Linked DNA regions of Homo sapiens. The protein of the gene in region 1 interacts with the protein of each later gene in a pairwise test. Each region holds a gene or a part of one and is shown on either strand. Other genes may lie near its edges. The genes, in order: SLC35H1, MAL2, C14orf180, STX3, SLC30A3, TSPAN33 and CREB3L1.

What was found.
Region 2: the proteins of SLC35H1 (region 1) and MAL2 interact in binary tests that used the Homo sapiens proteins (3 or more experiments, as listed by UniProt).
Region 3: the proteins of SLC35H1 (region 1) and C14orf180 interact in binary tests that used the Homo sapiens proteins (3 or more experiments, as listed by UniProt).
Region 4: the proteins of SLC35H1 (region 1) and STX3 interact in binary tests that used the Homo sapiens proteins (3 or more experiments, as listed by UniProt).
Region 5: the proteins of SLC35H1 (region 1) and SLC30A3 interact in binary tests that used the Homo sapiens proteins (3 or more experiments, as listed by UniProt).
Region 6: the proteins of SLC35H1 (region 1) and TSPAN33 interact in binary tests that used the Homo sapiens proteins (3 or more experiments, as listed by UniProt).
Region 7: the proteins of SLC35H1 (region 1) and CREB3L1 interact in binary tests that used the Homo sapiens proteins (3 or more experiments, as listed by UniProt).

The regions. Positions count from the first base shown.
Region 1 is NC_000020.11:46,357,401-46,361,425, forward strand, and holds part of SLC35H1 (solute carrier family 35 member C2), read right to left. Parts: intron 1,559-4,025; exon of another isoform or gene 1,364-1,558; 5' UTR 1,326-1,363; coding exon of another isoform or gene 1,291-1,325; 5' UTR 1,159-1,290; coding exon of another isoform or gene 1,107-1,158; coding exon 987-1,106; intron 374-986; coding exon 223-373; intron 1-222.
Region 2 is NC_000008.11:119,239,119-119,243,048, forward strand, and holds part of MAL2 (protein MAL2), read left to right. Parts: intron 1-1,046; coding exon 1,047-1,202; intron 1,203-3,930. UniProt on the Homo sapiens protein: Member of the machinery of polarized transport. Required for the indirect transcytotic route at the step of the egress of the transcytosing cargo from perinuclear endosomes in order for it to travel to the apical surface via a raft-dependent pathway.
Region 3 is NC_000014.9:104,586,116-104,590,140, forward strand, and holds part of C14orf180 (nutritionally-regulated adipose and cardiac enriched protein homolog), read left to right. Parts: intron 1-299; 5' UTR 300-315; coding exon 316-426; intron 427-1,633; coding exon 1,634-1,763; intron 1,764-2,158; coding exon 2,159-2,194; intron 2,195-2,462; coding exon 2,463-2,668; coding exon of another isoform or gene 2,669-2,763; 3' UTR 2,764-4,025.
Region 4 is NC_000011.10:59,789,807-59,793,831, reverse strand, and holds part of STX3 (syntaxin-3), read right to left. Parts: intron 3,314-4,025; coding exon 3,246-3,313; intron 1,726-3,245; coding exon 1,617-1,725; intron 734-1,616; coding exon 660-733; intron 453-659; coding exon 318-452; intron 1-317. UniProt on the Homo sapiens protein: Potentially involved in docking of synaptic vesicles at presynaptic active zones. Apical receptor involved in membrane fusion of apical vesicles.
Region 5 is NC_000002.12:27,256,463-27,260,419, reverse strand, and holds part of SLC30A3 (probable proton-coupled zinc antiporter SLC30A3), read left to right. Parts: intron 1-1,485; coding exon 1,486-1,667; intron 1,668-2,089; coding exon of another isoform or gene 2,090-2,112; coding exon 2,113-2,259; intron 2,260-2,361; coding exon 2,362-2,515; intron 2,516-3,067; coding exon 3,068-3,266; intron 3,267-3,526; coding exon 3,527-3,632; intron 3,633-3,899; coding exon 3,900-3,957. UniProt on the Homo sapiens protein: Probable proton-coupled zinc ion antiporter mediating the import of zinc from cytoplasm into synaptic vesicles and participating to cellular zinc ion homeostasis in the brain.
Region 6 is NC_000007.14:129,164,957-129,168,981, forward strand, and holds part of TSPAN33 (tetraspanin-33), read left to right. Parts: exon of another isoform or gene 1-2; intron 3-1,821; coding exon 1,822-1,950; intron 1,951-2,442; coding exon 2,443-2,604; intron 2,605-2,816; coding exon 2,817-2,918; 3' UTR 2,919-4,025. UniProt on the Homo sapiens protein: Part of TspanC8 subgroup, composed of 6 members that interact with the transmembrane metalloprotease ADAM10.
Region 7 is NC_000011.10:46,308,589-46,312,613, reverse strand, and holds part of CREB3L1 (cyclic AMP-responsive element-binding protein 3-like protein 1), read right to left. Parts: intron 2,626-4,025; coding exon 2,547-2,625; intron 1,583-2,546; coding exon 1,425-1,582; intron 290-1,424; coding exon 140-289; intron 3-139; coding exon 1-2.

The DNA.
Region 1 (4,025 bases):
AGGGGGGGTTTTGTGGGTGTGTGGTGGGGCAGTGGGAAGGCACGCAGTGCACAAGAGGCAGCAGCGTGGGTGGTGGGAGGCCAGGTCAAGAGGGCAGAGGAGGAACAGTGCAGGAAGAGGGGAGGGACTTGGCTTCCAGACATGCGGGTGTCTCTCTTGTTCTCATCCTATGGTTCCCCAGCCCCTCTTCCTGCTCTGCCCTCACTGAGGTCCCCCACCTACCTGTGGGAGCCACTCTTCTGAGGTAGTCGGCCCAGCTCAGCACCACACGGGCCCTGTGGCTGGAGCACTGAACCAGCGCCCTGGACAGGGCGGAGAAGAGGAAGATCACGGCCAGGTGCAGCATCGTCATGAAGAGGGGGAAATGGAAGCTCTGTATGGAGCCCAAAGCAGACACCCCGGCTTGGTTTAGACAGCCTGCCCCCCACCGGCTCCCTCTTCCTCTTCGCCCCTCTGCTGGAGTGGGGCTCATTCGGTGGTTCATGAGGACCTTGCTATGTGTGTAGGGCCCTTAGTTACGGTATCATCGCTTGGAATGACAGACTCTTAGGTCACGAAGACAGGTGGCAGCCAAGAGACTCAATCCTAGCCTGGTGCTGTCTCCACCATTTCAACACACCTGTGAGCTACCTGCCCAGCCTTCCTCACGGCCTATGCCCAAGTGAGAGCCACTGCGGCCCACTACGTTGTATCACTTATTAAAATATTGAAATACTTCTCTAGTGGGGTAAATAGCTGCTGCTTGAGCCCCAGTTTCCCCAGCTCATCCCTTCACACCCCCCGCTCTCCTTGGTTTCCCTGGATCCAAACACTGAAGGGGAACCCTGGCACGGCAGGCTTGGAGGGCCCTGTTCCAGCCCAGCCGTGACTGGCTTCCAGTTAGACTGGTTGAAGCTTGTGCCTTCCTGTTAAACATGAAGGGCACCGTAGCCATGGCTCTGGCCACCTTCATCCCAGCACCCCGCCCCAGCAAGGCCTCCTGGTACCTTTGTCAGCCACTTGTTGTAGAAGGTGATGCCGATGGAGAAGCAGTAGTAGAGAAGCACCAGCCCCAGGGTCAACACCGCCTTCCACAAAAAGGCCACATCGAGGGCCCACCTCCCCATTCGTGGCGGCTGCAGCACCGGAGCTCCTGAGTCAGCGGGGGCAGGCACCCCTCTTGAATACAATGTGCAGGAAGAGCCGGTGGAGTTAGACCACAGCTTTCACCAAGAACGTCTCCAGGCTGGAGGAGCTCTCTGCAGCTCCATGATTCGGAACCATCAGCAGAGCCCCAGGCAGAGTCCTCACCTAAGGGGCTGGTGGCTGGTGCTGACCCTTCCCATGGTTAATTGGATGCAGCGCTCACAGGTCCCAAGGTCTGCTGCTGGGGAAAAAGGGCCGCTCTGGAGCCTCAGGCAGAGACTGTGCTTCTCGTAGCCATGGGTGCCTCTGAAGGCTGCGTGACTCAGGGCTCTGGAGGGGCTGCCCACAACGGCACAGGCAGTCCCAGAGACCCACGTCGTGTCTGCTGTCTTGTCACCTCAAGCTATTCTCCATGAACTGCCACCAAAGTGACCTTTTAAAACACAAACTGATCATGTCAGGCCACTGCTTAAAACCCTTCAGCAGCTTCCAGTGCTTTTCTGATAAAGACCAGCACCCTTCTTTCGGCTCCCATGGCCTCATCTGGCCCTGCTGGTCTTCCCAGTCTCAGCCACAGGCTCTCCAGGACCTGGCCCCACTGGGCGCCTTTCAGCTCCCCAAACACACCAGCTTTCTTCCCGTTGTCTGAAGGAAATGAACGAACACTGCACCCACCCTTCAGTCCTTCATCAATCCTACCTATCTTCAGCTCAGAGGTCACTTCTTCAGGGAACCCCACCCCATCCCCTGAATCAGTCCCCTGAGATACATGTTGCTTTCACGGCTCTCCTACTTCTCTTTCATAGCACTTGTGCAGGGTGTGATTTGAGTAATGTCTGTCCCCTGAGAGGCTACGAGCGGCACAAAGATAGGGACCAGTAAGACCACACTGGCCTTACGCACAGCTGGTGTACTTTAAGTTCTCCGTCTGGTTTGATGACTGACAGAGAGCAGGCATGCGATTTTCAGGGGACTGGTCTGGTCTTTAGGGGTTAAAAATGGAGAAGGAAACCAACACTCTAACGGCTGGAACACTGTAAGACCAGGCTGTAACCACTACTCCCTGGAAGCAGAGCCTGCCTTACGGTATTGCCAAATGAAACCACTCCCAGCCTCCCTGTCAATCCAGCCAACCCTGATGAGTGCCCGGAGCATGCCGGGTAGACCTGTCTGTGCCTGGAGGAGCCTCAGGTCCAGTGTTATGTGATGATACCTGCTGCTTCATCTGGGTGCCCCCCTCAACCACAGATCCTCCTTTGAGACATTCCCATCCTATTGAAACGCCACCTTCTTCTCGAAGCCTTCCTAGGCTTCACGATCAGACACATTCTCCATCTCCCACCCCAACATTTCTGAAGGGAGCAGTTACATTCCATTCTGCACTCTGGAACTCTTGTTACTATTTCCCCTCCCCGGGGCAAACAGGGAGCTGGCTGTGTCCAAATGAATCTCTGGGGCTACAGTTGTCTTCAGAGGAGCTTTGGAAACCTGTGGCGGTATTTTGGGGATATGCTCCTGGCGTTCAGTAAGCAGGGATAAAGAAGGGGCAGTCCACATAGCCAATTACTGCTCTGCATCCCGCACGACTTTGACATCCATATAGGTGAAAGATTAGCTTATAATTATCTGAACCTAGAATGTAACTCTGTTTACATGTAAACACAGTGCAGTGTTTCCATGGTTCTGCTGTGAACTAACACTTCCAAGAATAAGACGCCTATGTACAATGAAGGGAGACTGAAAATGGTCAAAATTGGTCTCAAAATGGCACCAAAAGTGTCCATTCTGGAAAAACCACATCATCTACAGCAATGGCACTAGTGGTTTTCGAGGTGCGACACAACACGGCTGTGTCAGTCTGTGTCTGTGGCCATCACACTCCTAGAGGGTCCACACAGAAGGGACAGCTTCACTGCAACTTCCAGCACTATTGTGCCCAGAAACTTACATATTGAAACATATTTTGTTTTACTATCAATTACTTTCCTTTTATGTTATAGGGCATGGTTATTTATATTTTATTTTATTTTTTTTTTGAGACGAAGTTTCGCTCCTGTTGCCCAGGCTGGAGTGCAATGGTATAATCTCGGCTCACCACAAGCTCCGCCTCCCAGGTTCAAGCGATTCTCCTGCCTCAGGCTCCCTAGTAGCTGGGACTGATTACAGGCATGCACCACCACACCCGGCTAATTTTTTATATTTTTAGTAGAGATGGGGTTTCTCCATGTTGGTCAGGCTGGTCTTGAACTCCCAACCTCAGGTGATCCGCCCGCCTTGCCTCCCAAAGTGCTGGGATTACAGGCGTGAGCCACCGCGCCCGGCTGCATTTGTTGATTTTTAAAAAATTATGTGTAGGCAGTTTTTATTAATCATATGTTTCATTTTAGGGTAATAAAAGGGACTGTTACAAAATATTTGTAATAAAAAAGAGGTGTCAGATCCAATGAGTTGAGACTCCTACCTGACCTAATGCATTCTCATTCCTTCAAATGCCTTCTGTAAGCTGATGTCTTCCCAATATATGCCCCGGCTCTGATTCATGTGAACTCCAGAAGAATATCCAATGCCTACCTAACCTCTTCTTCCCTTAGATATCTAATATCAGGCATCTCACTCACATCTAGAGTGTCTGAAACTGACTCGTGTTTTCCACACCCCCATTTCATCCAAGCCTGCTCCTCTTCCTACTTCCCATCCCAGCAAATGGCTCCACTACTCTCCTAGTTGCTCAGGCCAAAAGCCTTAGGCTCATCTGATTCCTCTCTTCCCCTTAGCCCACATTCAATCAATAAATACCGTCAGCTCTATCTTCAGAAATATCCCAAATATGAGCACATGTCCTGAACTCCACCACTACCATCTCAGCCACCATCCTCTCCCCAAATGACTGCAGGAGTCTC
Region 2 (3,930 bases), on another chromosome or scaffold:
TGAACAGACACTTCTCAAAAGAAGACATTTATGCAGCCAAAAAACACATGAAAAAATGCTCACCATCACTGACCATCAGAGAAATGCAAATCAAAACCACAATGAGATATCATCTCATACCAGTTAGAATGGCAATCATTAAAAAGTCAGGAAACAACAGGTGCTGGAGAGGATGTGGAGAAATAGGAACACCTTTACACTGTTGGTGGGACTGTAAACTAGTTCAACCATTGTGGAAGTCAGTGTGGCGATTCCTCAGGGATCTAGAACTAGAAATACCATTTGACCCAGCCATCCCATTACTGGGTCCCAAAGGACTACAGATCATGCTGCTATAAAGACACATGCACATGTATGTTTATTGCGGCATTATTCACAGTAGCAAAGACTTGGAACCAACCCAAATGTCCAACAATGATAGACTGGATTAAGAAAATGTGGCACATATACACCATGGAATACTATGCAGCCATAAAAAATGATGAGTTCATGGCCTTTGTAGGGACATGGATGAAATTGGAAATCATCATTCTCAGTAAACTATCGCAAGAACAAAAAACCAAACACCACATATTCTCACTCATAGGTGGGAATTGAACAATGAGAACACATGGACACAGGAAGGGGAACATCACACTCTGGGGACTGTTGTGGGGAGGGATAGCATTAGGAGATATACCTAATGCTAAATGATGAGTTAATGAGTGCAGCACACTAGCATGGCACATGTATACATATGTAACTAACCTGCACATTGTGCACATGTACCCTAAAACTTAAAGTATAATAATAAAAAAATAAAATTACATATTATAAAATTCAGTATATGGAAAGGTTTACCAATGTGCCAATTAAGATGGGTCAGTTGATTTTCGCTTGGGTTCTGATAGTCTAACATTTCTAAAGCAGCTAAGCTTAACAGTGAATATAGTTAAGATTGTTTAATTAAATGTTTTGATCTTGCTAAACCTAAACTTCATTATTTAAAATAAGGAACAGAAAAATATTTTTTTTTAATTGCAGATGTCTTTTCTCTCCTCTTTTAGGATTTTGCCTACCATTTTACAGTATTTGTCTTCTATTTTGGAGCCTTTTTATTGGAAGCAGCAGCCACATCCCTGCATGATTTGCATTGCAATACAACCATAACCGGGCAGCCACTCCTGAGTGATAACCAGTATAACATAAACGTAGCAGCCTCAGTAAGTATTCATATTCAATGAGTACCATTCACCAGCACTTCCGCTCCACTGTCAAGGCCTCCAAGAAACTCCTCAGGCAACAATAGTTTTCTTCAATGCTAGCCATTGGCATTAAATATGTAATAGCTATTTATCTGTACAATAACCTTGTAAGCAAAGTGCCATGATCACCCCCAGTGTTGTGGATGATTAAACTGTAGCACGAAGAGGTTGATGTTCATGTAAGATCATAGCAAGCCAGTAGGACTGCTTGGCTTTGCACAGCAGTGTCTACTTTGCAAAAAGAGTTGTGTTTTTTGCTTCTGATAACTTTCAGAGATGGTAAAGGAGATTTCCAGTTTTGTTCTTTAGTATTCAATAGCTGCTTGCAATTTATTTCTATTGAATGAATAGTTACTGTGGGCCTACCATTTATCAAGTAATTTTGCTGGGTGTTGAGGATGGGGTGAATAAGTTGCAGTTCCTGCCATTAAGGAAAGTGCAGGTGAGAAAGGGAGGCAAATATGCCAGCCATTGCAGTAGATGATAGGCAGATGAAATATATTCCTTGGGGTATTTATTAAATTTTTTAAATCATCTTTAATTCGTATACTGGAGTGAATTTGTCATTTTGTGTAGATAATTTGAGGAAATAATATATTATTTTTGTTGTTAGAGATCATTGTTAAGATGTCAGAAGTCCAAATTAGTTTCTGAAATATTGTGATATTTAATATAAGTATATGGCAAGTTAGTGACCCTAATGTTTTATTATGTTCCCCAGGTAGCCTATAAATAACCCAGTACTCATATAGTCATTGAAATCTGTCTGGAGCAGCACTGTCTAGTAGAACTTTCTATAATGACAGGAATATTTCATGTAAGTGCTGTCCAAAATGGTGGCCACTGGCTTCATGTGGCTATTGAGCAGTTGAAAATTAACTAGGCCAAGGAATCATAGCTCATGCCTGTAATCCCAGCACATTGGTAGGCCGAGGTGGGAGGACTGCTTGAGGCCAAGAGTTTGAGACCAGCCTGGTCAACATAGCAAAACCTTGTCTCTGAAAAAGGAAAAAAAACAGAATAAAGAATTGGCCAGGCCTGGTGGCTTGTGCCTGTAGTGCTACCTACTCAGGAGGCGGAGGTTGCAGTGAGCAGAGCAGTCTGAGCGACAGACCAAGACTCTGGTCGGGGGAGAGAAAGATAACTAGTATGACTAAGGAACTTGAATTTTTAGTGTTATTTAATTTTAATAATCACATGTGCCTAGTGGCTATCATGTTAGATAATACATGTCTAGAGTGAGTTTTGAGGGGTACAAGACAAATGATTTCAAGACCTATTGTAAGTTTCCCAAGTCTCTGGTAGGATTTGTCAAAATTTATTGAGTGCCTGCAATGAATTAGGCTGAAGGTGGGATTACAACAAAAAGGAGTCATGGTTTTAGCTTTGAAAGGTTTATAGTGTAGATTCATGACTTTAACACTTGCTTATAAAAGAAATAAAGGTTTTATTTAATCAATTCTTACCTAAAACCCCAATAAATCTAGAAGATAAAAGTGTAAGTGCTCTAGTTGAAGTGGAGGAAGAGGGCCTTGAATGATGCTCATTCTCTTTTCATAAAGCTGCCTCTACCCACCCATATCATCCCTGAGGATGATAGAATCCTTGTGATCCACATTAGAAAACCCTTGGTTTTAACAGCTTTACAAAGCAAAGTTCAGGGACTTTCCTATGCTATTAGTCATCAATTCCCATTGTATTTGCCTTTATGTGTTTCTTACTTCCAGTCCCTTCATTTTAACGGTGCAGGCTAGATTCTTGTATCTTGGATCATTGAAGTAGCCCCAAATCTATTGACAGTCACCCTAGAACCTACTTTCACAAGAATAGTAGCTGCTGAAATACGTGATGGTTGTCTGAGGTCTTTAATTTGTCACCTTTGTCCTAAGGGCCTAGTTTTCCGTGTTCTCCATAATGTAGTTCTGTTCTGGCTGCTTCTCTTTTGTGACTTTGTCCCTGTTGTCCTTCCCTTTCTAAGTGAAGCTGTCTCAGTAAACCTCTACATGCTTCAAGTTCAACATTACATCCCATTTCATCCATATGCTCACTCCAGTCTAAGTAAATCTCTAGTTTGAGTTTTATTGTAACTAAAATGTATTAGCCATCCATTTGGGAAATTAGAGAGGAAAATTCCTTTTCCCTAATAATAGGTATCAAATAATAGGTATCAAAAAATAGGTATCAAAAGCTATTGCTGTCATTCAGAAAACAATGTCTAGATTAGAAATGTATCAGAGAAAAAATCAGCAGAAGAAGGGTGGAAAGAAAAGCAGAATAGTAAACTGTGAAAATGGTCTATAGGTGAATCTGGTATTCCTTCCCAGAACTGGTTTCCTGGTTAAGAATCCCTGTGCTAAACCCACAACATTTATCAAACATTTATCATGTTGAACTGCTTTTGCTTTGTCTTTTAGTCTTCTATGGATCATAAGCCCCAAAAGGGTGAGGACATTATCTACTGTTTGTTTATATGTACCAAGTATAGTGATATACACACAGTTGGTGCTGAAGAAATTCTCATTAATTCCAAGTAGAGTGCAGATTTGTACACAGGACTGTCTCCCATACAAGAGCAAGCCAACCTGATAATTCATTTCCACTTGTCTTAGTTGAGTTTTAAAGTTACCTTCCATCATCATAGAAATTATTTGATGCATCCTCAGGTTCTGATAGTTGCTGGCTTCCT
Region 3 (4,025 bases), on another chromosome or scaffold:
CTTTCAGTGACGGGACCTCGGCCCAGTGGAATATTATGCAGCCATTAAAGATGATAATTATGAAGACCGTGGCAGCAAAGGAAATTGCTTGCGATGGCATTTCTGAACGAGCAGGGAACAGGATTTACCTGCACTGGGGACACCACAGAGGAAAAGTGGTGTCTGCTCAACAGCGTGGCCGGTCGCAAGCCCGGGAAGCCAGCCTGGCTTCCAGGAAAGAATTTTCTCCTCCTCTTATTTTCATTCCTCTGAGTGCCACTTGTGCAGTAAATAATAAATAACGTCTCTGCTTATCTTAGGACCATGTTCCAGTAAATGAGGACTGCAGCAGGAGCCGTGAGCCCTGACTCCCGGCCAGAGACACGACGTCAGACCAGAAAGAATGAGGAGGCCGCGTGGGGCCCGCGGGTGTGCAGGGCAGAGAGGGTAAGGCGGGCCGCTGGGACACAGCTTCTGCAAGCTGGCCTTCCACTGGGGGCTGGAGGGGGCAGGGAGCAACAGACGTGGAAAGGCCATCCTCCACCCCAGGAATCAGGGGGTGATAGGAGGAGGGCAGGGGGATCACTGAGGGCTGGGGGGAGCAGCGGGGGGCAATGGGTGCCTTGAAGGATTTGGTCTGGCAGAGGAGATTGGAGGCCCCCAGGTGGGGCACAGCTTGGCAGAGGAAGTGGGAGCCATGGAGGGCTGTGGAAGAGGCAGCTCAGGGAGGAGGGTGTTGGAGGAGGGAAGAGGGTGGAGAGAGGACAGGTCAAGACTGTCACCAAGGGTCAGTGTTAGGGTTAGGGGCCCAGACCTCAGACCCTGAGGCTCCATCCAGCCTCTGAGGCACTGCCAGGCTGGGGCATGCCACAGGCACAGCAGGAGCTGGGCCAGACTCAGCATGGGCAGGCCTCACGCCCTCGCGGGGCAGCCTCGCCAGATGCCGAGCAGCAGGCTGTGTACAGCGAGCAATGCCCCAGCCAGGAACAACCTCAGAGCTGGCCCGGCTCCCAGGGTGCCTCAGCCCCAGTTGTCACCATGTCACAGACAAGGATGCTGAGGTTCACAGCAGCCCGAAACTCCCACTCCATCTTCCAGACTCAGGCTGGGCCCATACACGTGAGCAGACCAGCAGAGAAAGGGCCCAGGTAGGCAAATGTGTAGGAGCTGCCCCCGCCTGCAGCCTGGGAGGCTCGGCCCCAGGGAAAAGGAGGCCGAGGCCACCAACCAGCCCTCCTCACGGCCCTGGCCCGGCCCCTGCCCCATAGAGCTTGCAAACTCTGGCCCCTTAGCCAGAGCCCCTCTGCCATTGCAGCCCCCTCCCCCTGTCCACATGTCCTGGGGACCCTGTCCAGCAGCCTGCATCCGAGACAGCGGGCAGACGAAGAGAGGTTCAGTGGGGACTTGCGTGAAGAGACGGGGTCAGGAGGGGCTCCTGTCTTGCCTGGGCCCCTGAGGCTGAGTCTGGCTGCCCTGCAGTCCCTGTCCAGGAGCTGCCCCTCACCCTACAGGAAGTGACAGGCCCAGCATAGCGCACCAGCCAGGACAGGGTACAGGTTCCAGGACGGTGCTGCTGGGCCCCACATGGCTCAGACCTGGGTACCAGCGGCCTCCCGCCGGGGACTCACCAGTCTGCTTCCCGCCCCCACACCAGGAGGACAACAGGAAGTGCCCCCCCTCCATCCTGAAACGGAGCCGGCCGGAGCACCACCGCCCAGAGGCCAAGCCCCAGAGGACCTCGAGGCGCGTGTGGTTCCGAGAACCCCCAGCGGTGACCGTCCACTGTAAGAGGGCACCCGCAGCAAGCAGCTGGGAGAGGGTGGAGTCAAGCAGAGGGAGGCGGGGACACCGGCCACACCCACACAGCTCTGGCAGGGCCCAGGACATGGGGGGGCCGTGGCCACCTGCCTTCAGTGCCACAACCCCTGTAAGACCTGGGCCCCTGGGGTCATCTGGACACACAGTCCCGGTCCATGAAACAGCAACTGGAGGAGAACATGAGGGCGGATTCTCAAATCATGACTGTCCCTTTGAGGAAGTGTCAGGACCGGCTGGGCCTGGGTCTCTCACTGATGAATAGTCTCAGGGTCCTTCGGGGGTGCAGGGTGAGACGAGAGGGCGGGGGCGCCCGATGGACTGAGGCAGGTGCCCCCAGCTGACTCTCCATTCTCTTTCGCAGACATTGCTGACAAGAACGCCACAGCCACTGTCAGGGGTGAGTTCTGAGCCCACATCCCTGTGCCCCACTGCCCCCTCCGTGGGTGCACCCACCCTCACTCCCTCCCCGAGGGAGGTGTCACAGGGCCAGGGCCTCTAAGGAGTCCCCAGTTGGGGAGCTCTTGTTGCAAGGAGACCCCAAGAGGCTAGGGAGGGGCCATGGGCATGGACAGGGTGGAATCTCCCCATCCCTTCCCCACCAGCCCCAGTCCTCCAGGGAAGGGTCGCGCTGGCTGGCGCTGACCCTGCCTGCCCTCTGGCCGCAGTGCCCGGCCGGCCCAGGCCACACGGCGGCTCCCTGCTCCTGCAGCTGTGTGTGTGCGTCCTGCTCGTGCTGGCCCTGGGCCTATACTGCGGCCGGGCCAAGCCCGTGGCAACGGCACTGGAGGACCTGCGGGCCCGGCTCCTCGGCCTTGTCCTGCACCTGCGGCACGTGGCCCTCACCTGCTGGCGCGGCCTCCTGCGGCTCTGACGGGCAGGACGGGCAGGACGGGCAGGGCTTCCAGGAGAGCTCAAGCACTCCGGGGGCTCCGAGACAGCCTGAGCCCTGGCCCTGCTGCTTGGTGAATCATGGGGGCCAAAAGGGGCTGCTGCCTGAGGGCTAACTAGGAAAAGGGGGACCCCGTGGCGTGAGATCGGACATGGGGGGCACAGCAGGCGGCCCCGCCACACTAGTCAGCACAGCCCTCCTGTCTCCTGTGTTGGGTCCATGTGAGATTTTATTAGAAAGAGGATTCGACTGCTAACAGTTGAGGCTCCCCAGGCTCACCCAAAGACCCCTCCCTCGTCCCAGCAGGAACTCCTGCTGCTGCTAGGGCCTGGCCCGGCCATCACCGTGTGCACCCTCTTGAGGAGGGGGACACACTGCCCGTGTTCAAGGGGCTGCTCGGAGGAGGCAAACCCAGCCTTTTGCGATTATGGCTTGTGGGGAATCCAGACCTCGAAACCCCACGGGGAGGGAAGGGTCTGGTTGTCAAGGTGGGTCCCTTTGATGTGAGGTGCCATCCTCTGAGCCCAGGTCTGACCCCCCTACCCAGCCCCGTGAGTCTGGAGAGGCCCCAGGGAAGGACCCCTCATCAGGGGCGGCTTCAGGTGTAGAAGCCGAGGGGACAGCAAGGGGCCCAGACACCCCCGACCTTCAGAACAGCCATCTGTGCCCAGCTCTGCAGGCCAGGCACACCCAGCTGAGCCCGGGGCCAGCCAGCACCACCCACCAGCTGGGGCCTGTGGGTCCCGGAGACCGTCTGTGGTTGTGGCTTTGTCGCCGGATTGCAGAGCTGAAGGGAGCCCTGTGGATGACAAACACCAGGGGCCTCTCCAGACCCTACGTGGGGGGAGGGCTGAACAAAGCAGGGAGGCCCACGGTTAGACACCAGGCAGAACTGCCCAGGAGAGACACAGGGACAATCAGACCAGCGTCCTCGAGGTTAGCCTGAGGCGGGTGGGCACGGCCGACCATCCACCCGGTGGTTCCTGTTTGTCCCACCACTTAACTGGGAGACACTGTTTTATTAAAACACACCGTGGCTTCCTTCAGTCTTGGTGTTTTTATAGAAATGAGAGAAACCAGAACCGATTTGCTAAGGAATCGGCCTCAGTGGCCAAAGCGGATGTCCTGGGCGCCTGGAACCTCCCCATCTCCTGCAGGCCTGGGAGTGGATGTGTCCACTCGGGCAGGGGCTGACCAAGCCCCTGGGTCTTGAGGGATGCCCGGCCGGCTCCCTTTGCCCTGCAGTCAGGGTGTGTCCCTGCAACTCCAGGTGCCAGGGAACAGGTGAAGTGGTCTCCAGGGTCACTTCCAGCTTTGGAATCCAGGGAGCCCAGAGTTG
Region 4 (4,025 bases), on another chromosome or scaffold:
TCCATCTTAAAAAAAAAAAAAAAATCAAAAATCCAGGAAAACTGGGTACTTGACAGAACACATCAAACCCTGTATCAACTAGCAACGACTGCAAGGCCAAAGGGACAGGCAAGAATGACAAGGTTAAGATCACCCAAAGTGTCAACATTCAATTTGAATGCACACTTTCCCATGGGATTCTGTTTCTCCTTTATGCAAATTCCCAATGGTTCTCCCACCCTACCTCACTGGCTTCCAGTATTCCCTTTCTCCCTGTTCTCAGTAGACCCTGAGCTTTCCTCTCCTCCCTCCCCACGCTGGGACTCACTGCCACTTACCTGATTCTCCACCAGCATGGCGATGTCCATAAACATGTCGTGAAGCTCCTTGATGCTGCTCTCCAGCCTCACAATGTCCTTGTGTCGTCCCTCAATCTCACTGAGGGCTTGCTTGGAAATCTGTGAGTCAATGATCTACAACAGGCCACACACAGACTGTTAGCTACCCCTGCAAGAAAGGCTGCCCCTGCCACAGCCCTCATGCACGCTCCTGGGGAGCTCCTTGCCTCCCTGAACTCCCTGCACCTGCAGCTCCCCCTCCACCTGCTGGACTGCATGAGCTCCGCAGTGGCCTCCCTGCTCACGAGAGGGATGTGCTATCCGAGCACACAGGGCACTCACCCCAGAAGTGAAGATGGCCGGGTTGCCACTCTCCAACATCTCCTCCAGCTCCTCATCGGTTGTCTTTTTGCCAGCTTTGTAACAAAAGAAGTAGAGCGTCAAATATAAGATCACGGTGAAACACCATCTGATAAGGACCCTGAAAATTAGGAACGTGACTTCCCTATAAAGACCGTGGCCTTTACAACACTCCCCCAATTGCCTCCTGACTCATCTTATTTCTGCCCTAATCCAAGCCATCCTTAACACTATCAGCAGTTACCTTCCTAAAGCACTTATCTCATTACATTGCTTCCCAGCTCAGAACATTTCCTTGCCCCATTCACTACACTATGGTGTCCAAGGCCCTCATAACATGCTAGTTCATGGGCAAGCCCTCCCTCAATCCATCCTAACCTTATGCTACTCCAGACACACCCTTTCTCCAGACCCTAGACAACCTGCCACTCCTAAACACACTTGCTCTTTCTTGATTATGTTCATACCATTCCTCTCATCCAAAGCACCTTCCACTCCACGGGGCCCTGCCTTCCACATTACTACATTCCTAAAGGGTATGGCTTTATTTATTTCTCTAATCCTCCCAGCAACTTACACCATACTTTTATCCTCCCAGCAACTTACACCACACTTTTTATTTCTTAAATGTGCTTTGCTGTCAAACAGACAGCAAAATGATACAATGAGTCCACAAGAGAGCAACTGTTTGGCAAGCATTTCCCCTCTATATAGGAGACAATGCTGGACCCCATACAATAAAATTACTTGGGCCTGATAAACACGGTGTCACCTTTCAGCCTACAGCACAGCATTCGGGATGTGCCAGTGGTGCAGGAGCTGCCCTAGACTTAGGCACAAAATGTGCTTCCTGCTTGCTCCACCAGGGCCTCAAAACTTGGGATGGACAACCAGGTGGCAGGAAAGGTGGAGGGCACACGCCAAACCTCAAGTACATACTAATTTCGAGCTGCCGCTGGATTCGCCCTTTGCTGCGTTCTCGGAAGTCCACTTGAGCTTCATTGTATTTGGTCATCACCTCCACAAACTTCCGAGAAAGGACAGAGTGCTGTGGGATGATGTAAAATGCAGTCAGGCCCCAGTGGTTCTGTAACTGTTATAGAACCCCTCCCCACCCCCACATAGCCATCTACAATAGCACTGGACTTGGAATCAAAAAACCAGGTGTCAAACCAAGTTTTTTGTTTCCTAGCTTTGTGCCACTGGGAGAGTCCACTGCCCTTTCCAGAGCATGGTTTCAGCACCAGTTTACTGAAACCGGTTTACTGCTGACCTCACGTGGTAATTGCGAGGCCAGAGGTCATCTCTAAATCTCTGAGCCCTACATCCACATGGACTAGTAGCATTTTTCTGGCACAACACTTGGCTTGCATTCTAAAACTGTCAGATTCCCTTCCCACATGTCATACTTACCAAAGATCCTTGAGTTCTTACGCTAAACTCATCTCCCCAACTCTTCTTGCTTATAAGTAGATGCATTATCTCAACAGCCCTGCATGCCTAAGCTAAAACCTTCCTAATAATTTTTATTCCTTGCTCACCTCTCAGCATCAAGCCCTACTTACTGGTTTCTCCTTTGGAAAATCGCCAATATATATACTTTTTCCAAACCCACTACCACCATACAAATTTAGACCAAAACCCTTGCAAAAACCTAACTAGGGACCTTCCAGTTTCCTGCTTCTTTCCCACTTGTAAACGGCTTTCAAATGGCTACCATAATAATCCTCCTAATATACTGCCGCCTGAAGCAAATGCCTGTAAGTTATAACATCAGATCCAAATTCCCCAGACTGGTCCTCAAAGACCTCTAGAATGTGGCACTACATTATCTACTAAAAATTATGTGTCCACTATCCCACAGCAAACTTTTTTCTACAGAAAGCCTATTGTCTTCACGTCTGCCCCTTACGTCTACCCACCACCACTACCAACCACTGCTGCCAACACACACATATGTGCGTGCCTCACTCCTGCCCCTGTGCCTCTCAGAGAGGGGAAACTACTTCCTGAGGCTGCTCATGTTGGCACTCTGGCCCAGCCTCCTCTGGCTACCCCCCATTCTTCCTGAGATCTTTTGATGCTGAGAGCACCATGCATGTGTCTTCTTATCGCATCCTCCTGCTGGGTCGCATCCTCCTGCTGGGTCTTAGGTAATAGCTTTCCATGCCGCTTCAATGGCATGCCAGTTCTTTAAGGACAAGGATCCTATCTTTGATGACCCCTAAAGTGCCTAGCTCCAAACTGGACAACCAATGACTAACAATTGTTAGAAGACATTAATTTCCTCTCCTGTAAAACAAGAAGGCACGCTAAATCCTAAGCTGTGCTCTAGGAAGCCTGAAAAGCTCTTCAGGGGCCTCCTTAGAGAAGGAGAGTACAGGAGAGGAGCCAAAAGGGCTGGACTCTGGCCCTGACCCCTATTTCAACCTGGAGAGTTCTCCTTTACCAGGTCTTCAAATTGAGTTTCAAAATAAGGATTGTATTAAAAAAAAAAAATCCCTCCACAGTTAAGGGAAAACAATAAGAGATTGGACTAGCTAATCATGAGACCAGGAAAAGTCTTACCTGGGATTTCCGAATCCGAAGGTCTGCCGATGACCTGACCTCATCTTCTTCAATATGCTTCTCCATGCCTAAAGAGGAGAGGAAGGTTATACTTGCAACCTATCTCCGCCTCCAAGAAACATGCTATTCAGTGAAACTTCCTCACTCATTCCCACACATCCAGCCCACGGAGATGTAACAGGTAGGTGTCACCTCAAAAGGTCAGCTCCCAGATGAGCCACAGGACGTGCATTCCACAGCCTTTACGATGACCAGGTTTTGGCATAACAGTTAACAGCATGGGTTCTGGTCACCATGAGACTTAGGCTTGAATCCTTGCCCTGGCACTTACTGGGTGTGACTTTGAAAAAGCCACTTAACCCCTCTTAATGTACCTGTTCTCTCATCTGTAAAACAGAATAACAGTCCCTCCCTCACAATACTAATGTGAAGATTAAATGAGAAGACACATAAAGTGCCTAGCACAATGGCAGGTGCACTATCACTGTTATTACTGGAATCTGCTACTAATGACTCCTCCAGTTAAAATAGTTATTGCAATATACTTGGGGGGAAGAAATGGTAAATTGAGCTGAGCAATAATGCTTTCTCTTCTGATCAATAGCATGCATGCACCAAATACACTGGGCAAGAATGCAGGCTCTAGCAACAGAACTAAGTAAACCTTCTAGGCTCTGGAAGAACTGAATCTATGACAGTAGCTTCATTGAACTATACTCTCCCAAATGGGGGGAGTGAGGGTATGGGAAGGTGGTATGCCTAGCCCACCAAGAAATATCT
Region 5 (3,957 bases), on another chromosome or scaffold:
CCCCATTCATTTGTCAAGGGAGACTTATGGTACCATGCAGTTAAGGTGGGCTCTGCTGGGTGCTTATAGTCGGACTGAAGTCCAATTAACATGCTCCTCCCACTGCCATCCTCAGCCATAGCAGGCTGCACCCCTTCCTCCCATGACAACCCCAGCTCTGGAATCTAGCCATCAGTTCTCTGTGCCCGGAATCAGACTTTTTGGCCCCAATGTCCCGCTCGTCTCTTAAAGGGCCACACTTCAGCTTCATGTCTAGGGAGGGCGGGGGCAGGATCCAGGAGTGGAGGTTCTGGGAGGTGGGCCTGGAAAGGAGGCACACCAAGGCCAGGAACACATGCTGAGTCCCACTCCACACTTCACTCCACCTTCCCTTCATACTGCCTTGGCGTGCCTGGCATAGCATTCACCTGTCTTTATCAAAATCCTTCCCATCCTTCAAGGCCCTTCTCATGTTACCTCTTACAGCTGTTTCCCTGATTTCCTCGTTATAATTAGTCTGGCCCTCCATCCTCAGAACCCTGATAGCACTCTAACTGCCCTAATGACAGTGGCCACCTTCGCTCTATATCATTGTGTAGGTACATGCTTGCCCTGTTCACCAAAAGCTCTCAGAGATCAGTAGGAATCCTGCTCATTTTGGGGTGCCTAGCATAAGAAATTGGTTGGGGTCTAGTCTCAGCTCTAGCAACTAACTGGGTTGGCCTCCATGTGTCCCCCAACTCTGTGAGCCTCATGCCTCTAATTTATTTAATAAAATGTTAGATGAGAGCCGGGTGCGGTGGCTCACACCTATAATCCCAGCAACTCAGTAGGCTGAGGTAGGAGGATCGCTTGAGGCCAGGAACTCAAGTGTGCAGTGAGCTCTGATCACACCACTGCACTCCAGCCTGGGCAACAGAGCAAGACCCCATCTCTTTTTTTTTTTTTTGAGACAGTCTCTCACTCTGTTGCCAGGCTGGAGTGCAGTGGCACGATCTCGGCTCACTGCAACCTCCAACTCCCTGGTTCAAGTGATTATCCTGCCTCAGCCTCCCAAGTAGCTGGGATTACAGGCACGTGCCACCACACCCAGCTAATTTTTGCATTTTTAGTAGAGATGGGGTTTCACCATGTTGGCCAGGATGGTCTCGATCTCCTGACCTTGTGATCTGCCTGCCTTGGCCTCCCAAAGTGCTGGGATTACAGGTGTGAGCCACCACTCCCGGCCAACCCCATCTCTTAAAAAAGTTAGACTAGACCGTCTGTAAGGTGCTTTCCAGCTGTGAAATTCTATGGCTCTGTGTATGGAAGGAAAAGGGAGGCTGGGCTCTGACCTGTTCATTTAGCCCCGGTCTCTCATGTGGCCCTCTGCCGATGCAGCTCCCAGATACGACCAGGCCTGGGGAAGGAGATGGTCTGATGAGGCCAGCACTGGGGACTAAGGACGTGGAGTGAGCAGGCCAGCCTGTGGGCCAGGCCCAGGTTGAACCATGTTGCTTGCCTCAGTCTCTTCACAGAGCCCTCAGAGCCCCTCCCTGAGGAGTCCAAACCTGTGGAGATGCCCTTCCACCACTGCCACAGGGACCCCCTTCCGCCGCCGGGCCTTACCCCTGAGAGGCTGCATGCACGGAGGCAGCTATATGCTGCCTGTGCCGTTTGCTTTGTCTTCATGGCTGGGGAGGTGGTCGGTAAGTTGGGGAGCAGCCCTTAAACCCCATTCTCCAAATACCTGCCCAAGCCACTCTCCACCCAGAGTCCCAGGAATGTTCCTGGGTGCAGATGCAGAGATGGGGATGGCTGGGATAGGGGAGCTGGGTGCCCAGGACTCAGGAAGTAGGAGGGATAAGGGACAGCAACAAAGGGAATTCCAGCCGAGGTCCGGGGCCAGTAGGTCAGGGCTGACTTCTTTTAAAAACCCTATTTTCTTGTTATTAAAATAAATCATTGTAGAAAATAAAATACAGATGAATGAAAAAAATAACATAACAGTAGTTAATTATACCTGTAGTCCCATCACCTGAGAAAACCCCAAATCACATTTTTGGTGTATATCCCCCAATTTATTTTCCATGCCTATACACACTACATGATATTTTCTAAATGGAAGCAGACTCCATCATTTCACCCTGGCAGGCGGGTATCTGGCACACAGCCTGGCCATCATGACCGATGCAGCCCACTTGCTGGCGGATGTGGGCAGCATGATGGGCAGCCTCTTCTCCCTCTGGCTCTCCACCCGTCCAGCCACCCGCACCATGACCTTTGGCTGGCACCGTTCAGGTAAGGCCCCTGCATGGCCCAGTGACTCTCCAATCTTGCCAGAGGGCACCCGTCAGGGTCCCAAGCAGGTCTCTGACAGCTTGTCTCCCCCCCCACCCGCAGAGACTCTGGGGGCTTTGGCCTCTGTGGTCTCCCTCTGGATGGTCACTGGCATCCTCCTGTACCTGGCCTTCGTCCGCCTGCTGCACAGCGACTACCACATCGAGGGGGGTGCCATGCTGCTGACCGCCAGCATCGCAGTCTGTGCCAACCTGTTGTACGTCCCAGTATGGAGCAGGCACCTTGTGGGGCCCAGGGCGAGGGGTCTTCCTCCAGGATGGGAGAGCTGGCTCTCTCCTCCCCACCAGACACACAGACACGCACACACAGCTCTCCATGGGCTGCCCTGCGTGTGCCTGAGAAGGGTCTGGGATAGAGACCTAAAATTCAGTCAGCAGATCTCTGTCAAGGGCCTGCCATGGGCCAGCCACTCTGATGAGGGCTTTCATCAACATGATTGCATTTAAACCTCACAGCCACCCCATGAGGTAGGTAGCATTACCCCTAGTTTACCATTAATGCAGTCAATCCCAACAGGTGACTTGCCCAAGTCACATATCTATTTAAGTAACAGGGCCAGCTTCCGAATCCACATGTGTGGCACCAAGTCTGGTATTCTTTCCCCCAGGCTGCATTGTTTATCTCTCTTGCAAAATGCTGTTTTCTTCCAGGGGCTGGGAAAGGGCTACTGGGGAGGTGAGACATGGAGATGGGGGTATAGGAGGCCAGGAGCAGGGCCCTAGGCTGAGGTGCTCTGCTTACCCCTCAGAATGGCCTTTGTGCTGCACCAGGCTGGGCCCCCCCACAGCCACGGGTCTAGGGGAGCAGAGTATGCACCGCTGGAGGAGGGGCCTGAAGAGCCCCTGCCCCTGGGGAACACCAGCGTCCGGGCGGCATTTGTGCACGTGCTGGGGGACCTCCTGCAGAGCTTTGGGGTACTGGCTGCCTCCATCCTCATCTACTTCAAGGTACCATCATTGGAGACCTGCCCCAGCCTTCCTCCCCACAACCACATCCCAGCCCACTCCTTCCCAGGTCCCAAAGCTTCCTTCCTCCTCCCTCCAGCTCCTCCCTCCCACCTCCCAGGACTCTCCCAGACATGAGTCATGTTCCCTGTCCCCTCTTCAGGGTTTTGAGGGGCCTCTCAGGTCATGTTTGTTCAAGATACCCCTAGATCTTCCTCTGAAAGGTCCCTGGTTGTTGGGCTTAGGGGTCTCTTTCTCTGCAGCCTCAATACAAGGCAGCCGACCCCATCAGCACCTTCCTCTTCTCCATCTGTGCCCTTGGATCCACCGCTCCCACCCTCCGAGACGTTCTTCGAATCCTCATGGAAGGTGAGTCGGGCACCACAGCTCCCCATCCCTGTGGCCCTCTCTGACTTTACTCTCGCAGTGGGCCATCACTTTTTTCTTTGAAGATAGTACGGGAAGAAGGCTTGGCTCATGGGGTCTGCTGCTGGAACAAGGATTTGGGCATAGGGTGAATTGTAGGGGTCAAAAGGAGAGTGCATACAGGATAGGGGAGGTGGAATCCAGTGGTGGGGGTGCTGCTTCTGGGCAGGAGTAGCCCTAGCAGTAAGGCATGACTGGTGCTGGTTGCAGGTACCCCCCGCAATGTGGGGTTCGAACCTGTGCGGGATACGCTGTTGTCGGTGCCAGG
Region 6 (4,025 bases), on another chromosome or scaffold:
CTAAAAAAAAGAAAATTACATTTAAAAAATTGTGATAAAATTTACATAATGTAAAATTTACCATTTTTAAGCATACAGATCCGTGGCATGAAGTACCTTCAATTGTTGTGCAACCATCACCACCATCTCCAGAACGCTCATCTGCCCCAGATGAAACTCTGTATCCATCAAACACTAACTCCCCATTTCCTCTCTTGAATCTCTGTATCCATCAAACACTAACTCCCCATTTTCCTCTCTTGAAACTCTGTATCCATCAAACACTAACTCCCCATTTTCCTCTCTTGAAACTTTGTATCCATTAAACACTAACTCCCCATTTTCCTCTCCTGAAATTCTGTATCCATTGAACACTAAAGCCCCATTTTCCTCTCCTCCAGCAACCACCATTCTACTTTCTGTCTGTAAATTTGACAACTCTAGGTACCTCAAATGAAGGGACTCACGGTATTAATGCTTTTTTGAGTGGGTTATTTCACTTAGCATGTCTTCAAGTTTCATCTCTGTTTTGGCATGTGCCACAACTGCCTTCCTTTTGAAGGCTGAATAATATTCTGTTGTATGTATATGCCACATTTTGTTTATCCATTCATTCACCAGTGGAGAAAAGGGTTGCTTCCACCGTTCGGCTACTGTGAACAAGGCTGCTATGAATCAAAAGTTAACAATTAGGCCAGGCATGGTAGCTTACATCTGTAATCCCAGCACTTTGGGAGGCCAAGGCAGGCAGATCATTTGAGGTCAGGAGTTTGAGACTAGCCTGGCCAACATGATGAAACCCTGTTTCCACCAAAAATACAAAAATTAGCCGGGTTTGGTGGCGCACACCTGTAGTCCCAGCTACTCAGGAGGCTGAGGTGCGAGAATAGCTTGAATTTGGGAGTTGGAGGTTGCAGTGAGCCAAGATCATGCCATTGCACTCCAGCCTGGGTGACAGACAGAGACTCCGTCTCAAAAATAAATAAGTGAAAAATAAAAGTTAACTTTTTTTTTTCCCTGAGACGGAGTCTTGCTCTGTTACCCAGGCTGGAGTACAATGGCGTGATCTTGGCCCACTGCAACATCCGCCTCCTGGGTTCAAGTGAATCTGCCTGCCTCAGCCTCCTGAGTAGCTGGGATTACAGGTGCCTGCCAAACCACGCCCAGCTAATTCTTGTATTTTTAGTAAAGATGGGGTTTTGCAATATTGGCCAGGCTGGTCTTGAACTCCTGACCTCAGGTGATCTGCCCTCCTCGGCCTCCCAAAGTGCTGGGATTACCGGTGTGAGCCACAGCACCTGGCCAAAAAAGTTAACTTTTAAGTAAAAGTGCTTCTGAGACAAGTCCTGAGTTCCCCTTCCTCTGGTGCAATAGACACTTGACTTTGAGATCCAGTTGGCTCTCATGGAGTAATGATTGACTCACAATATTGAAGATTCCTCCCCTGTGTTTTCTCTATCTTAAGGAGAAGTTTTTCAGCACTGATACTGTAATTATTTCAGCCAATACTTTTGATCACTTCCATTTGCCTGCAAAGCCAGAAACTTCTCTCAAGAAGATTATAGCTGAGTATGTAAAACAAAATATATGTACAACTGTAATACCAACAAGCACAGTGGTAAGTTATAACAAGATATACGAAGTAATAGAAATTAAGAAGTGAGAATATCTTCAGGCGAAGGCAACTGGGAAGCTGGAGCTCAAAGTTTAAGGCTGTGTTAAAACACAACCTAAAGTTCCCAGTAGAAGCTTGCTATAGACTTTTGGTGGCTCTGAGAATTCCCCTGGTCACCTCAGTGTGAGGGGTGGGTGATTCTTAACCTCTGGTGGGTTTTGTTGCAGTTTAGCTGCTGTGGAGGGATTTCCTACAAGGACTGGTCTCAGAACATGTATTTCAACTGCTCAGAAGACAACCCCAGTCGAGAGCGCTGCTCTGTGCCTTACTCCTGTTGCTTGCCTACTCCTGACCAGGTGAGCCAGCATCCTGCCTCATTTCCTCCTAGGCAGCGAGCTGAGTCACTTTCTGATGGGGGCAGCTGCTACTGGGGATCCCCATCCCCTAGCTTCACCGATCAGTCATGTGGGACAGCTGTCAGGTGTTTTTCTTCACCCCAACCTGATGCTTCTATTAACCTCATACTCATGTAGTCCACATGGAGTTCAGAAGGGACAGATTTAAGTTTTAAGTTCAGATTCAGTACCTGTGCAGGTTTGTTATATAAGTAAACTTGTGTCTTAGGGGTTTGTTGTACAGATTATTCCACCACCCAGAGCAAAGAGACCTGGATCCTGACCTCTCAGAGGAAGGGAAGTCTGCATTTGGCAACTTCCAACCCAATATCCTCCACATATATTCTCTGACAATTTAGGAGTTTGGGAAGGGTGGGAAGCCCATCAGCTAAGGCCCCAAACAAAAAGTTATTGGAATTACAGTCCCAATTGGCTTTTCAACTCTTTCCCCAGGCAGTGATCAACACTATGTGTGGCCAAGGTATGCAGGCCTTTGACTACTTGGAAGCTAGCAAAGTCATCTACACCAATGGCTGTATTGACAAGTTGGTCAACTGGATACACAGCAACCTATTCTTACTTGGTGGTGTGGCTCTAGGCCTGGCCATCCCCCAGGTAACTTACCCTGTGAGACTTGTTGGTCCCACACACTCTGTAAAGACTCCTTTGTTTTGGGGAAGGCACCTGGGGATCAGCGAGGGTGTCAGGCACTGACATGGCTGAGGGGTAGGGAAAGGGATAGTGCTGGCCGCACTGGGAAGATCGAGCCAGGGAAAACAAGGCCATCACTCACTGCTGAGTGCCCAATTCCTTCTTGCCTCTCCCAGCTGGTGGGAATTCTGCTGTCCCAGATCCTAGTGAATCAGATCAAAGATCAGATCAAGCTACAGCTCTACAACCAGCAGCACCGGGCTGACCCATGGTACTGAGAATCCATCCTGCACCTCCTCACCATGGAAACTGGCAAGCCTCATAAACGAACAGCAGTGGGTGCTGAAAGCAGCACCAAATGGAGATTTGGATTCCAGCCCCCCAGTGACAGCCCAGTGGGAAGAAGCAAACTCCAGATGGGCAGAAGGCAGGGTGCACAGGTGGCTCCAGTCTCAGGAGGATGCGCCTCCTCTCCCCCATCCCAGCCCTCAGCATTGTGCCAGAGTGATACCCTTAAGTGTTTGGGTTTATGTTTTCAGTTTTGTTTGGGAAACAGCAGTTGCACAGAGAGTTGGGGGTACTGCTGCTGCCTTTTCACCGAGGCACTGCCACCACCAGCTCTAGCAGGGATGCTCCTGAGCTTGGCGGACATACTTAGATCCTAACGTGCCAGTGAGACCTGGCTGTGGAGAGTAGCACTGGCAGCCCTGCCTGGACTCCACTTGGCATGATACCAGCTCCAGAAGGGAAGGGAGTGGAGCAGGCAGTGAGGAGAGAGCCTGGGGGTCGGCTGGGGACAGCCGTATGTGCTAGGTAGGAGTGGAGGGAGATATGTTTACCAAATGCCTGTCCTGCCATCCTCCCAGGTAGTCAGAGTGAGCTACATCCTGCCCCGCCTTCATTTCCATGGAAACATGGCAGCTAGGACACGGGGTACAACAGCAGCCAAATTCTTCCCCACCTCCCTTACTTCGAAAAAAAGTTTGGAACCCTGGTCCCTATACTCTGCAGTCAGAAGTGGGACTGAGCCATACATGCCCTTGAATTCCTCCCTGTCTGGCCCTCCCTCTCCAGCAAGCAGGGTTTTCTTTAACTTGGCAGTGTGCAGAGGAGAAGTGGTAACACCCCCACCCCATTCCCCTGCATCGGAGCTCAGTATTCCTACAGGGTAAGAGGTAGGAATCTTGCTGGGACGAGGGGAGCCAGAAGTGGCAATAAAAGCGTGTTGACCTGGGCTACGCGGGACTCCATGAATTTTCCATTCTGGCAACTGGAAGGGGAGGTGTAGAAGGGCCCTGCAGAGGACGGCACTGGAGACTCTCCTAAACGCCACACACCTCCCCCTTGCTGCCCGCCACACGCGCGTCTCCTTCAACCGATGCATT
Region 7 (4,025 bases), on another chromosome or scaffold:
ATCTAGAGGGGGAGGCCCGAAAACAAGGGTTAGCACTGCCACATATTCACTTCCTGGGCCCCCCAATTTCAGAGCTGGTATGCCAGGGGAGCCCACCCACCAAGGAAGCCCTCTGAAGCCCCAGGGTGGCAGGCTTTACCTTGTTCTTGATTTTCCTCCGGACTCTCTTCAAGGCCTTCTCCTCGGCTTTGGTGAGGGGGAGTTTTGTGGGGATGGGGTAGCCCTCAGCAATCAGGGTCCGCTTCTCCTCCTCTGTCAGGAGCAGTGGCCCTGATGTCCCCTGTAATTTCTGTAGGAAGTATGATGTGGTAGTTAGGAGCCAGGCAGCCCTGGGTTCAAATTCAAGCTCTGCCATGTGCTATCTATATGACCTGGGCAAGGCACACAATGCTCTATGCCTCAGTTTCCTCATCTGGAAAGGGAGTGGATCTGGGTGAAATTCAGTAACATGTGTCAGGTGCCAGGGCCATGCTGAGAGCTCAGGTGTTAGGCTCTTAGTGCATTGTTCGGGAGGGCTTCCTGGATCCCATCCCTGAGACTGCACCCTCAAAGCTTACTTGTCCAGGGTGCCCCAAACAGCATCTCCCTCAGACCCCTCCCTACAATCTTGGCTTGGGAGACTCCACACCCATCCCAGGGCTCAGGGCCTAGCTCCATGTTTCCTGGGGATTCTGGACCATCTGGGCACTTCCCCTCACACAGCGCTCCTTGGAGGCAGCCTGGGTCATCCCCTGGAGGTCAGGAATGTCAAGTTCTAGTCCTGGCTCTGCAATAGTCTCCTGTTCACCATGAGGCAGGGCGAAAGGATTTGAATTCCTGACCAGATGCGGTGGCTCACGCCTGTAATCCCAGCCCTTTGGGAGGCTGAAGTGGGCAGATCAAGAGGTCAAGAGATTGAGACCAGCTTGGCCAACATGGTGAAATGCTGTCTCTACTAAAAGTACATAAATTAGCTGGGTGGTGGTGTGCACCTGTAATACCAGCTACTCGGGAGGCTGAGGCAGGAGAATCACTTGAACCCTGGAGGTGGAGGTTGCAGTGAGCCGAGATCGTGCCACTGCACTCCAGGCGACAGAGCGAGACTCCATCTCAAAAAAAAAAAACAAACAAAAAAAAGCCAGACACGGTGGCAAGTGCCTGTAATTCCAGCTACTTGGGAGGCTGAGACAGGAGAATTGCTTGAACCTGGGAGGCAGATGTTTCAGTGAGCCGAGATTGAGCCACTGCACTCCAGCCTGGGCAACAGAGCAAGACTCAAAAATAAAAGGATTAGAACTCCCATCTGCCAGGTAAGCATCCCTCTGAATTCTGATGAGGGTGGGGATCAGTCTCGGGGCTCCCCAAACCCTCCTGACTGGCCAGTGTGCTCAGGTGGATGTATTCAATTCCTCATTTCTGGGATCAGCCCACCCCCAGCTCCTTACGTGAGGGGCAGTGAGGAGTGGGGAGGTGGAGATGGCCGTGGAGGAGCGCGCCATGGGCCTGACAGGGCTGGAGGGGGGCAGAGAGCGGGGACTCTGGGAGCCGTCGCTGTCACTGCCATGGCTGCTGGGGGGCGTCGGAGGCATCTGCACCAGGTCCTCTGGGGAGAGCAGGGGAAACCGAGTTAGCAACGTTGCACATCAGCTCCACTTGGACATCATGAGTTCAGCTGAGCATGAGCTTGCACCAGCCCTGACATTGTGGGACACGGACTGCCAGGCGCTTGGTCTCAGCTATGACATCAGAAGCCCCTCTGCAGGGTCAGAAAGACAGTTGACATCTGGGTAGCCAATTCCTGGGTGCTGCCTCATCTGACACCACAGAGGCCCAGCTCCTTTACAAGCTCGCCCTTGGCATAGACATCATAGGAGCTGAATTCGTGGGAGGTCCTCTGTGACCTCTGACTTCACAGGGTTCAGGGCCTTAAGCTCAGCAACTCCAGAAGATCACTAAGCTCTAGCTCAGCAACCCCAGAAGGTGACTGGGGCCTCTCTCTCATAGGGTCAGGCTGGGCAAGCAGGAGCGATGGCAGCAGTAGATTGGGCAAGAAGAGGACTGGACGAAGGCTGGGTGCAGTGGCTCACCCCTGTAATCACAGCACTTTGGGAGGCTGAGACAGGTGGATCCCCTGAGTCAGGAGTTCAAGACCAGCCTGACCAATATGGCCAAACCCCGTCTCTACTAAAAAATACAAAAATTAGCCAGGCGTGGTGGTGGGCACCTGTAATCCCAGGTACTTAGGAGGCTGAGACAGGAGAATTGCTTGAACCTGGGATGGGGAGGTTGCAGTGAGCTGAGATCGTGCCATGGTACTCCAGCCTGGGTGACAGAGTGAGACTCCATCTCAAAAAACAAACAAACAAACAAACAAACAAAAAACAAAAACGAAGAGGACTAGACGAAGAGTGGGCATGGATGGAGGGACAGTGGGTAGGGCAGGGTGGAGAGGATATTCTGGGTGGGGGAAGGTTGTCAAGAGATAGGGATGGGCTGAACCAAGGAAGTGGGGATGCTATCTGCCTATGACTGGAGGGGAAAAGAGCCCTTCCCCTGGACACACCTACCCGGTGTCACTTTGAGGAACTGGTTCACCTCCAGAGGCTCTGCTTTGATCACTGGCAGCTGAGTCATCTCTCCCGGGGCCTGAGGAACAGACAAGCCCAGCTCCATTAGCTGCCCCTGGGTCTGTCCCCACCATGCCATCTACCCACCTCCTCCCTAAAGCTGGTTGCCTGCCCTGCACAGTTGGGGAAGTGGCTGGGCTTGGAGTTCTGGGCACAGCTGCAAGGGAACAGAGGCAAGCTCTTGAGCTTAAAGAAGCCAAGTCACACCTAAGAGAAAGGATTGCTGGCCAAGCAGTGTAGCTCAGACCTTAAGCTCAGAGAAGGTGAGCCTCTGAGTGTGGGGCCACCTTCCACACCAACTGTGAAGGCCACACAGGCTTTGGTATGTGGGTTGCCATGAGAATAAAACAAGAGGTAATGTCTGGAACAGTGTAGCTGTTCAATGGCTGGTAGCAGTAGTACAGAAGGAGGCATTAATTGGCTGGGGGCTCCGAGGATGCTCCCTGAGAAGTCAAAGTCTGAAATGAGTCCCGGGGTATAAATAGAAGTAGAATCTAGACAAAGAAGTTGGAGGCAATGAGAGCTCCTAATGGGTTGAAGTAAGGGCTTGATAGAATCAGATGGACATTTTTAACAAACATGCATTTCTCTTTATTTCTATTCTGACTTGTTGTTCCAGAAAGGACTTCAAGAGCATGCATGGCTTTGTACACATGACTACCAACATGCAAGTAAGTGGTGCTCTGTCTGAGGAAGGCGTTGTTGGGGGCTGGATTGCAGGCCCTGGGCTGCAGCCCCAGAGAGATCATGATATTGTGGGTGGGACGCAGAATCCAGAATGTAGGCTGATGAGTAAGAATCCCAGAAGGTTCAAGTTGGCAGGGACCTTGGAGATTCCTTGGTCTACATCCCAGCTCAGCCCTCAAGTGACAGAGAGGGGACTGCGGTGCAGAGAGCTCACTGTTGACAATGCCAGCTCCTGTGCCTTCCACTAGGGGTTATGACCTCACTCGCGTGGGCTTCAGGGTCTGGCAGGCCGAATTTGGAAGGCATGTCAGTTGCTTCTAACTGCATGATTTTGGGCAAATTACTTAACCCCTTGAGCCTCAGTTTCCCTTTCTGAAGTCTCCTCTTCCCTGGCTGCTGCTGCTGTCACTCCATCCCTTCCTGCTTTGGCAAGGCCTGAGGAGTCTCAGAGCCAGTCTTGGAGATGGTCTCAAAAGATCCTGCATATTTGCCGCCGACCCTTGATCCCACGGGTCTGTGGTGGGGCAGGGAGGGGCTGACCTTTCTTGCCTTCAGCCACGTACAGTTAGAGCAAGTGAGCCGTGTGGCCAGCAGGGGGCAGGGCCAGCCACGCTCCCATCTAGGGATTTTAAGATGCTGCTCATCCTGTGGAATCCCAGGGCTAGAAGCACCTTAGGGGGTTCATGAGCCCCTTTTACAGAGAAGGAGGATGTGCAACATGCCCAGAACACA